Linked DNA regions of Homo sapiens. The protein of the gene in region 2 interacts with the protein of the main gene of each other region in a biochemical or structural test. Each region holds a gene or a part of one and is shown on either strand. Other genes may lie near its edges.

Region 1 (3,823 bases), on a different chromosome or scaffold from region 2:
TGAGTAGTCATAGTCGGCTCCCGAGGACGGTTCACTACTAGAAGGCATTTCACTCACAGGGGAAATCTCACTCCCTGAAGACATCTCACTTCTTGAGGTAACCTCAAATCCATCAGCACTGTGGTCCCCAGAAAATGGTTCACGCTTCCCAGAGTAGGTGTCATTGAGGTCCAATCCAGCAGCATAATGGCCTGCAGGGGAGGGAATAAAGGAAGAAAAGAAAAGGTAAAGTAGGGTGCCTTTCGAGTCAGCTGTGTTAGGTAGAAAAGTTTATCTTTTGACATCAAAGCAGTTATTGCACATGTGCTATTGTTTGTGATTGAGTCATTTCTATGAAAGAAACTTTACATTTTTGCCAGCAAGCAAATTCAGCTGTCCCAATTACAGAAGTGCTTTTCTGAAGTTTTTCTTTTCCACAGATAATCCACATTAATTTCCACATCAAAAAAATCCCGCCAAATTGGCAAATTAATCTAATACAATTACTTGATGGGTAATGTCTAAAAATTCCCATCACTTCACATTCCAAATGCATTTCTTTTTTTGCTAGAATGCCATCCTGGCCTATTTCGGTAGGTTTTAGATACAAATATCAGATTTTCTTCAGATGTGTTCATATTTTTAAAAGATATTTTTAAAAGATGTGTTCATATTTTTAAAAGATGTGTTCATATTTTTAAAAGATATTTTTAAAAGATAATCTTTTAAAATAATATAAACAGTGGTTAATTATATCGATTATTATTGTCATTTTTCATTATCATTATTATTATTACTACATAGACAATAAACTGAGTACTAAGTAAGATTTGGGGCCCAGAGTTAAGCCACTGCTTTATCTTGCTTTTTCTTAGGTCTCAATAAAACAGCATCAGAGTGGTGCTTTTAACCTCTCGCCGGGATACTCTAAGTCCCTCTAGGAAGGTAAAGAAGAAATCACTAGACAGAGATGGAGAATTAGGCAGGAGGCAGCAAACACTGCTGGGTCCAATATCTGCGGAAATCACTTCACCTCTCTAGATCTTGGTCTTTTTAATCTTTTAATCTGTGAAACGAAGGGTTAGGTTCAAATGATCTCTCCCGTCTTCTCAGCTGAACTAAAGAAAAAGTACAGCGATTCTCTGGGACACCTTGTCCTGGACGTTTGAGACATCTGCCCTTCTCTTTTCCTCCTAGGGAGGGAGCTACAGTGATCACCTCCTGCGGCGCAGGGTCGGGGGAACTAAAGGGCGATTTTTAGAGAAGCAAGAGCCAAACTCAAGAGGCAAAACCTGCCATGGGAGGAGAGCCCAGCAGTTCAGCGCCGGTGAATCCTCACCTGAGCCGAGTATCAAGAGCGACAGCACCACCGGCGCCGGCGGTAGCAGCGGGGCTCTCATTGGTCCTTCGCAGCGGCGGCGTCTCGGTCTCTGGGGCAACTCGGTCTCTGGGACACGAGCTGCCGCCAAAACGAGCGGGTGTTGGAAGAGCGAGTGGAGACCGGGAGTGTGCGCCGCTCTCGAAGGCTTGGGGAGCTCGGGGCGGCGGGCGCGGCGCCTCGGGCTGTCCCGGGACCTCTGGGGCGCTGGCACCCAGGTGTGCGAACGTCTGTAGGGCGGCGCGCACCTGCCGCTTTATAGGCTCAGCCGGGAGGGGGCCGCAGCCCATGACGTCAAGGCCCGGCCGTGGGTGGAGGCAGGCGGCGCCCCAGAAGGTGCTACCCGAAAACCACGCGCGGAGGACACACGCCCCGCCTCCCTCGTGCGTAAGGATTCGCTGAGAGGAAGTGGAACTTAAACCTCTAGCTGCAAGCCGTTTTTGAGGGCGAGCAGGACTGGAGTTCCGGAGCTAGTACCTGACAGAAGTCCAGATGTTTCAAACTCTGACAACCTCTTTGTATACTTAACATCTACAACAGACAGGGATTAAATAGAAGAGTTCCGTATTTAGATGTAAAAGTACTTTAAGACCAAGAGTGACTTTGCCTGATGTTTCCAACAAGGATAAAGGACGAGAGAACTCAATGAGGAATTGCTTCATGTAGGATGGGCTTCTATCTCAATCAAGAGCCCCTTCCCACCCATTTCTGTGAAGTGGCCAGAATTTCAAATCCCCTCACTCCCTATTTCTTTATGTGGCCCAGGGGCCTCATCAACATTAATATTTATTGATGATTTATTATTGCCAAATTATGCACTTAAAATTTTACCTACACCATCTCACAGCCGATAATGTTCAAAGCCAGGTGGATATGAATTCTTCATCTGACTCTGAAATCTGCTGTTTTCCTCTCTGATGAATTTAGGTTTAAACTGATCCTTGAAAAGAGGGTTTCTGGGAAGAACAATATTTAGCCTAAAGGATAATTTCTACTGGTGGCATACTGGCATTTAGGTGAAGAGTAGTGCTCTAGACTGTGCCTCTCAAATCCCAAGATAAAAAGGTCAGCGTTGAGGGCCCACTTACAACCTAGTAGGATATTTAATCATGACAAGTAGATAAAATGAAGCGGAGACAGGAAGCTACTTAATTTGACTAACTTGGATGTACTGTCAACTAAAGAACTGGATTTTTCTTGACTTGAGGAAGAGAAAAAGCATTGTTCATTTTCCTTCACCTGGAGATATGATTCTTTCCTGATTGTTTCAGTAACACAGCCCTTTTAAGAATGTAGGTCAGGCCAGGCGCAGTGGCTCATGCCTGTAATCCCAGCACTTTGGGAAGCCGAGGCGGGTGGATCACCTGAGGTCAGGAGTTCGAGAGCAGCCTGGCCAAGATGGCAAAACCCCATCTTTACTAAAAATACAAAGGAAATTAGCTGGGCGTGATGGCGCGCGCCTGTAGTCCCAGCTACTCGGGTGGGCTGAGGCAGGAGACTCCCTTGAACCCGGGAGGCAGACGTTGCAGTGAGCCAAGGTCATGCCACTGTACTCCATCATGGGTGATAGAGCAAGACTCCGACTCAAAATAATAATAATAATAATAATAATAATAATAATAATAATAATAACGTGAGTCACAGTGCATCTGTCCTAATTCTGGAAATTTTTTTTTAAAAATCACTTATTTTTAATGGTATATCACAGTGCGTAGTCCAAATAATATCATGCATTTAGTAGAATGAAATAATCATGAATCATGCCTTCTATTCCACATTTGTTGAGAGTGTATTTTGTGTGAGCCACCTGCTTTATATTTTATGAAGGGGAGCAGTATAGGTTCACCAGGAGCTCAGTGGTGTGGGCCAGATACATAGATAAGTAATTCTAATAGATCACATGATGAGAAGGGTTCAGAGTGCCATGGAAAAAAAGGACATGGTTTAATTTTGCCTCTGTTTAATGGAAAGCTCTGTGGAAAGATGAAGAGGCCCCTCAAAGGCCTTCCCAGCAAATCTTTTACATGGAATAAAGACCTGATGTGAGGGTATGACCAAGTATGGGAAATAAGGCTAGAAAAGTGTCATGCCCATTCCAAAGTGAAGTAGGGGCCTGCACTGTTATCTGTTCTGGTGGATGAGGCAATTGTGATTCAGAGAGATTGAGAGACTTGCCCAAAGATTTCAAAAGATTCTTTTGGAGACTTTGTTTGGAGCTCACGCAGTTGGTCTACACTGTTGCACCTTTATGCTCCCATAGGCTTCATTTCTGTTCTAGGCCTGTTCTTCTCTTTTCTTCTTTTTTTTTTTGATTGACAAGTAACTTCATATTTGTAGTATATGACATGATGTTTTGATATATGTATACAATGAGGTTAAATCAAGCTATTTAACATATGCAATACTTTCCATTTTCTTACTCTTCTTATTGAGATGAAAACACATTGTGCAGATCAGTCATCAGAA
Region 2 (3,823 bases):
TCTTCTTCGTCTGCCTGCCTGTCTCCGTCTCTGCCCGCTGGGGGGTTTGCTCAACTCCCTCACTGGGTCCTGGGAGCCGCAGTTTCCTGCTGTCACTCCTCAGGGATTTGTAGCTCTCTGAAGCTCTTTTCCGACCCGTTGTCTCGGTTCCACTCTTGGGATCCAGAGGAGAGGTGATTATTTCGTAGCATAGTCAGTGGTGTGATTTCACGGGGTGAGAAGGACTCCCTTGCTCCTAAGCACTCCTCCAGTGACCCCTGTTGCCATGTGGTAGCCGTAAGCACTGGTTGGCACCTGGTGTGGGCGAGACCCTTACCTCATGCAGAAATGAGTAAGACCGGTGAGCTCACCATGTGGGGGTGAGGCTGAGAGAAAACAAGTACACAGGTGATTCAGTCAAAATCAGAATTCTCTAAGTACACACGAAAAGGGCAAAAGGGGCGCTTTGTACAGGACAGAACAGGTAGACACTGAATCCGGTTGGGCCCTGGGAAGGCTCCCTGCAGTGGCCTTTGAAGGGGGGGTTGGATTTCAGCAGGATAGAGGGCATGGGCATGTGTGGGCACGTTCTGAACAGAGGGGTCAGCGCAAGCCGAGGGTCTTGGCCACACTAGTTGCATGTGCCGGTGTGTTTAAGGGACACGCAGCAGCAGGCCGAGTCTGGAGCGCCTCACTGCCAGGCTTTTTAAAAATTTTTAATTTTAATTTAATTTTATTTTATTTTTACTTTAAGTTCTGGCATACATGTGCAGAATGTGGTTTGTTACATAGGTATACATGTGCCATGGTGGTTTGCTGCACCTATCAACCCATCATCTAGGTTTTAAGCCCCGCATGCATCAGGTATTAGTCCTAATGCTCTCCCTCCCCTTGCCCCCATCCTTCTCCCCGCAACTGCCCACAGGCCCTGGTATGTGGTGTTCCCTTCCCTGTGTCCATATGTTCTCATTGTTCAACTCCCACTTATGAGTGAGAACATACCGCCTGGCTTTAAGGGACAGCCATGGGGATGCACTGCAGTTTCTGAGCAGGGAAGGCCCTGTGGAGGCCCTTAGTTAAAAGGAAAGAATGGCTGTGAAAATCGATGCATTGCGCTCCCTTGTCCCTCACCCTCAGTGTGAAGGGTTTTTATTCCGAGTTCTACTTGAAGTAGGCCTCGATGGGAAGACAAGTAGCATGAGGGGTTCAAGTACTGAGGGGAGCAAGGGACACTCGGTGGCTGTGCCAAGGTGTAGAAGAGGACACTGGGGGCCCCAAGGCCTGACTTCATGTACACTGCTCAGGCTGGCCCCCAAGTCACACGGTGACCGCTAGGAAGGGACCAGCCTGTTCTCAGTCTGATCCTCCTGCCATGTCATTATCCAAAGCTCCTCCTGGCAGGGCCTGTTTGGGGTCTCTGTGCCAGTGCTTTCCCTGCCAGGCTGGGCTGGGGCTTCCACCTACTGCTCTGGGACTGCTGCTGCCCTGGCCCTGGGGGAGGAGGGTGTGCCGCTGAGTCACTGCCTGGGCATCTGGGCCTGGAACCTCGGGTGAGTCACTTAGGGCTGAGGTAGAGGGGCTGGGGGAGGGGAAGAAGCTACTCGACAGCTGGAGCAGGGAGGGGAGCTGGGGCCACAGGAAGGGCGGTGCCCTGATGCCCAGACGGGCCGGGATAGACAAAGGGCCAAGGAGGAAGGGGCCCTGGGAGGGGGCAGCCCTCCCTTGGGCTGGGCTCTGAATGGCCACAGTGTTTGCCTTTCTCCGGGTCTGGGGAGGACATGTGTGTGGGGGGCAGTGAGAGAGGGCTGTGGCTGAGGGCTGTGCTTCAGGCCTGGATTCTGGCTTGGGAAGCTGTCCAGCTGGTGTTTTCAGCCTTGGGTAGGGATGTACCCCTACCCACCCACCCAGCCCTCAAGCTGGAGAAGAGGAGGCCAAAGTTTTCCTGTTCAGCCTTTAACTACTCGGGACTTCCTTATGCTCCCCACAGACTGTGGCCCAGCCCAACTGCGGCTGTGTGTAGAGCAACCCCATTTCTCACTGCTTCCCCATCCTTCCAGACACCTTCCTACACAGAGGGACCTTCCCAGGTATTTCTAAGCACACTTAGTTACCTCATTACCTCATTAAGAGGTATTCTGGTGCTGGCCATTAAAAGTCACTCCACTTCATCCATGCCCTGAAGTCAGTCCTGTCCTTCTCCTCCTGATGTCCCCCAGCTGCCTCCTCTGGCCCCCAGCTTCCTAAGGGTGGCCCCAGGTTGCTTCTCTCTCACACACACGGGCGCATGTATGTACACGAGCACTGGACCATGAAGTCTCAGCGTGTGCTCACAGCCTCTCACACAGGAGTGGGCTGTGACTCACAGGCATGTCATGAGAATGAGGCCTGGCACCAGTCTCCAGGCCCCAGAGCAGGGGTTGCCTCCCCTCACCCCGGTCCAGGATGCCCAGTCCCCACGACACCTCCCACTTCCCACTGTGGCCTGGGTGGGCTCAGGGGCTGCCCTTGACCTGGCCTAGAGCCCTCCCCCAGCTGGTGGTGGAGCTGGCACTCTCTGGGAGGGAGGGGGCTGGGAGGGAATGAGTGGGAATGGCAAGAGGCCAGGGTTTGGTGGGATCAGGTTGAGGCAGGTTTGGTTTCCTTAAAATGCCAAGTTGGGGGCCAGTGGGGCCCACATATAAATCCTCACCCTGGGAGCCTGGCTGCCTTGCTCTCCTTCCTGGGTCTGTCTCTGCCACCTGGTCTGGTGAGTACCTCTGTCCTGCTGAGGGCAGGGTGGGGAGGATCCCCGTGGGTCTCTGTCTTTGTCTCCACAGTTCTCTCATTCCAGCTTCCCTGGTGGGATCAACCTGGGCCTCTCTGGGCCTTCCCCCTTGGAAGAACTCTCTGTGAAGTGCTGAAGTGTTGACTGAAGGGTTTTTTTTTTTTTTTTTTTTTTTTGAGATGGAGTCTCGCTCTGTCGCCCAGGCTGGAGTACAGTGGTGTGATCTCAGCTCACTGCAAACTCCCCCTCCCAGGTTCACGCCATTCTCCTGCCTCAGCCTCCCGAGTAGCTGGGACTGCAGGCGCCCACCACCATGCCCGGCTAATTTTTTTGTATTTTTAGTAGAGATGGGGTTTCACCATGTTAGCCAGGATGGTCTCGATCTCCTGATCTCGTGATCCACCCATCTCGGCCTCCCAAAGTGCTGGGATTACAGGAGTAAGCCACCGCGCCCGGCCGACTGAAGGGTTTTTCTCCAGGTTCCTCTGTGAGGTCTCAGTGCAGGGGTTGCTCTGAGGCCCTCCCCTGGATATCTCAGTCTAGGGGCCCTTCTTTGGGGGTCTAGGCCTAGGAGCAGGAGGTGTGCATGTGGGCGTTGCTGCAAAAAGAATCCTGAGATTTTTTTTTTTTTTTGCAAAGTCCTGGATTCTAGCAGGACTAAGGTGCAAGAGGCAGGGGTCTCAAGACTCTGCCTGGGTCATGGCCCCAAGCAGCAAAGCTCTGCCCCCTGCCTCGGTGAAGGCAGGGCTGGCATGATGGGCCCAGGGCATGCCCTGCCTCTGGCATAGCTCCTCTGGCCTCACCCTGAAACCTGCCTAACCTTTCCAGGCTGGTCTGAGTATTCTCAGAGGCCTTGCCGCTGAGGTCTGTCCCATCCTGATCCCAAGGCAATGAACATTTCATATCTTTAATTCTAATTCCAACAGGATCCTTCCTGGTGGAGAGAATGTTAAGTTGCCCCCACCCTATCCATGCCCCTGTCTGCCTAGAGGCTCAGGGGCCTTCAGGGTGAGGGGAGACACATTCCCCACCCTCTGGGAGCTCCTAGTCTGAGAGAGGAAACACTCCTGCCCAAGGGAG
Region 3 (3,600 bases), on a different chromosome or scaffold from region 2:
CAGCCCGTCTGAAATGCACACAGCCCGGGGAGTCAAGGGTCCCTGAAGGCTCTGGCCCTGGCCCACAGGCCGTAGGATCTGCTGGCTTTGCTCCTTGCCTAGTTTCCAGGTATGGTTTGGGGCCACCAGACTTATTCTTATGTAGGGGGGCAGTGTCTAGCTTCCCAACTCCACCCCAAACCAAGTGCCAGGTTCCTGGATCTGGGAGGAGTTCCCTGAAGCCCTGAGCGTGAGTTCTGTGGAATGTGCTGGGGAAGGGGTCTCACCGTGATATTCTCGGCCTCCTTGGCCTCCAAGAGGTACCTCTCCAGGACTCGGCTGTCACAGATGAGGCGTGGTGGGGCGCCCAGGACTGGGAGGCCCAGAGGGAGCGACAGCAGGGACAGGAGAAGCCACAGCCAGGCAGGACATTCTAGAACAGATAGCCAGGCTGAGAGTCAGGCGGGGAGGGAGAAGGGTGGCTGTGGAAGGACAGCTTCCTTCATCCCCACGTCTCTGCCCCAGCTCGTCCTTCCTGTCCCCAACCATGCAAGCACTCAGGTGCTGCCTCCCTGGCCTTCATTCAATCCTGCTGCCGTGTGCACACCCCACCCCCAGCTACCAGCATCCACTTCTCCGGCCAAACTTCAATCCTGGTGTGACAGAGGCTTCCCCTCTGGCAGATAAGTGGTGGCTCCAGCGCCCAGGTTATCAGCTTATCAGCTTCCTCTCCACTGGCACAGCAGAACCCCCAAACCTTCTTCCCCTCAACCCCCAAACTGTGTCCCCTTCACAGGTCAGGTTTTTGCCATCCCCAAGGACTCCCCCAAGTCCCCGCTGGCACGTGGAGGCTGCCCCACCCCCCTCCCCCTTCCGGGGTCCTTGACAAGTCGCCGGTCCTTGAACCCAGCCACCTCCTGGCCAATAGCCGGGGCGCTAAATCCCCGCTCAAACAGGGACCCGGGCGGGCGGGAGCGCCCAGCCCGCGAGTACTCACCGTGCACCCCCATCTCCGCGCCTGGCCGGGGTCCCTCAGCGACCTGGGGCGCGCCGGGTGACCACACCGGGGGCCCTCATCCCGGGAAGCTCGGCGGTGCAGGGCCAGCCCCACGGGCCTGGAGGAGAGGGCGGCTGTCCAGGGGGCGCGGTGTCGGAGCAGAGCGGGCGCGGTGGCCCCGGTCCGGCTCCGGGAGGACAGCGCGGTGCGGCGCAGCGCAGCGAGCGGCCGGGGTGGCCCAGGGACTCTGCGGCTCTGGCCGGGGGTCGGGGCTGTTATCTGCATGTGTGCGTGCGCGGGTGGGGGTGGGGGAGAGGCTGTGTGCGTGAGGGGTCGCCAGGGGTAGGGGCCACCCGGGGTCAGAGCAGGGGCAGGACGCCTGGGTTGAGGCTCGCCGGGGCGTGAGCGGGGCTGCTGCAGACGTGCGTGTGGGTCATGGGGGCTGCTCCCGGGCCCTGGGTCGCGGGAGGGGAGTGCAGCCGGTTGCGCACCCTTGGGACTGGCGGAGCGTGCTATCTGGGAAAGGCTGGGCTCCCGGACACCTCCCCTGGGGGGCATCCCGGTCTTGGGCGGAGACTCAGAGATGCCTGGGTTGCTGAGTTCCGCAAAGTAGCTGGGTCTGGAAGCCCAGAAGCTTTAGGGAGGGGCAAATGAGTGGTCTCCCTTCCCACAATCCCAGGACATGTTCTAGAAACAATGTTGACCATGTTGAGGAATTTGATGGGGGCAAATAGGGCAAGAAATTTGGGGTTCTTCCTCCCCACCTCACTCCTCACCGTCTAGTACTCTGCAAACCCAGACACTTAACTTTTTTTTTTTTTTCTGGAGATGTAGCCTCCCTATGTTGCCCAGGCAGTGCAGTGGTGCCATCTCCCGTTCACTACAACCTCTGCCTCCTGGGTTCAAGCAATTCTCCTGCTTCAGCCTCTGGAGCAGCTGGGACTACAGGCACACCTTTACACCCGGCTATGTTTTGTATTTTTAGTAGAGATGGGGTGTTGCCATATTGCCCATACCGGTCTTGAACTCCTGACCTCAGGTGATCCACCCTCCTCGGCCTCTCAAAGTGCTGGGATTGCAGGCGTGAGCCACCGCACCCAGCCCCCACCCCAGACACTTAACTTTTAGTGCACAGAGCACACAGTCCATTGTGCAGGACACACATGCACCTTGACATCTGTTTATTTGACCTGTGGTGTAGGTTAGCTAGGCTGCATTGCTGAGTTCTTAAGAACACTGAAATACAGCTAACACCAAGAGTGATGGGGGCTGGGATTTACAGCTAAGGTTTTATGGCTTCTGGAAACCCTGAGCCAGAGGAGTGAGATTCCCAGAGCAGGAGACCAAGACTAGCTGGTCTCTCACACCTTAGAAAGTGGCCTCGTCCTTGAGCCCTCAATGTCCTCATCTGTCAAATGGGTGTGGTGAAACTACCAGCCTATCCCATTCAGGTTTCATAAAAGACAGGAAAGGTCCAGGCGCCGCAGCTGACACCTATAATCCCAGCACTTTGGGAGACCAAGGCAGGAAGATCCTTTGAGCCCAGGAGTTCGAGACCAGCCCGGACAACATGGCAAGACCTTGTCTCTAAAATAAATAAATAAATAAAAAATAATTAGTCAGGTGTGGTGGCTCACGCCTGTAGTCCCAAATATGCAGGAGGCTAAGGCAGGAGGATCACCTGAGCCCAGGAGTTCGAGGCCGTAGTGAGCCATGATCGTGCCACTGCACTGCAGCCTGGGCGACAGAGTGAGAGCCTGTCTCAAAAACAAAAAAAGACTGGAATGTGTAGATCTGAGCTGTAAGAGTTAGCCGGGAGAAATCAAGAAAGATTTGAGGGAGGAGGTGACAATGACCTCAGCCTTGAAGGGGGGTAGGACATCAATGGGAAGAGGTATGAGGTGGGTGGGGGATTGTCGATTCAGCAAAGTGAATGGAGAGTCAGGTGAGTATTGCGGGATCTGGCCAGCAGCCCGCAATGCAACAGGGCTCTCTCTTTGTTCCCAGGCGGATCAGCAGGTTGAGAAATAATAGACACACACAAGATAGTGAAAGCTGGTCCGGGGGGTCACCGCCTTCTGGTCCCGTGGTGTCAACAATGCACCAGATGTACCATCATTTATTATTAAGTTTAGTGAGGGCGGGGGTAGGTTAGTGAGGGATTTAGGGTCATTTGATTATGAGGTGAGATGGTCACATGGGGATGAATTAATTCTTTAACATAACATTTATATGTAGAAGTACAGTACATTTGTATGCAGAAGTACAGTATACAGAGATAAGAATTTACAATATAGTGTGTGCATCAGTAATTTCTAACAGAGCCTTAAAACAGAAACACAATCTTTCCATAACCTATGATTAGCAAGATACTAATCAGCAGTAACAATTGCAACAAAAGCTGGTTACAGACAATCCATGGAAACAGGACATGAAGCTAGACAACCAGTTAGACCAGAAATTCTCAGAAGGGAGTATGCCTTAACCCTAAAGAGGCCTAGAAGAGCCATGGCAAGATGAGGGCGTTTATAGCCCTATCTTATCCATATGGACAGGTGCCCCCCGCCCCCATGCGTCCGTTTATAGGCTCTCCACAAGGGTCGCATTCCATTCCCAGAGCTATG

What was found.
Region 1: the proteins of S100A2 (region 2) and AREG interact in far-western blotting, tested with the Homo sapiens proteins (one study listed by IntAct).
Region 3: the proteins of S100A2 (region 2) and EPO form a complex in vitro, tested with the Homo sapiens proteins (one study listed by BioGRID).

What each region holds. Positions count from the first base shown.
Region 1 is NC_000004.12:74,442,902-74,446,724, reverse strand, and holds the start of AREG (amphiregulin preproprotein), read right to left. Parts: upstream 1,590-3,823; 5' UTR 1,380-1,589; coding exon 1,319-1,379; intron 192-1,318; coding exon 1-191.
Region 2 is NC_000001.11:153,564,408-153,568,230, reverse strand, and holds the start of S100A2 (protein S100-A2), read left to right. Parts: upstream 1-2,386; 5' UTR 2,387-2,725; intron 2,726-3,823. UniProt on the Homo sapiens protein: May function as calcium sensor and modulator, contributing to cellular calcium signaling. May function by interacting with other proteins, such as TPR-containing proteins, and indirectly play a role in many physiological processes.
Region 3 is NC_000007.14:100,718,370-100,721,969, reverse strand, and holds the start of EPO (erythropoietin precursor), read right to left. Parts: upstream 1,503-3,600; 5' UTR 990-1,502; coding exon 977-989; intron 413-976; coding exon 267-412; intron 9-266; coding exon 1-8. UniProt on the Homo sapiens protein: Hormone involved in the regulation of erythrocyte proliferation and differentiation and the maintenance of a physiological level of circulating erythrocyte mass.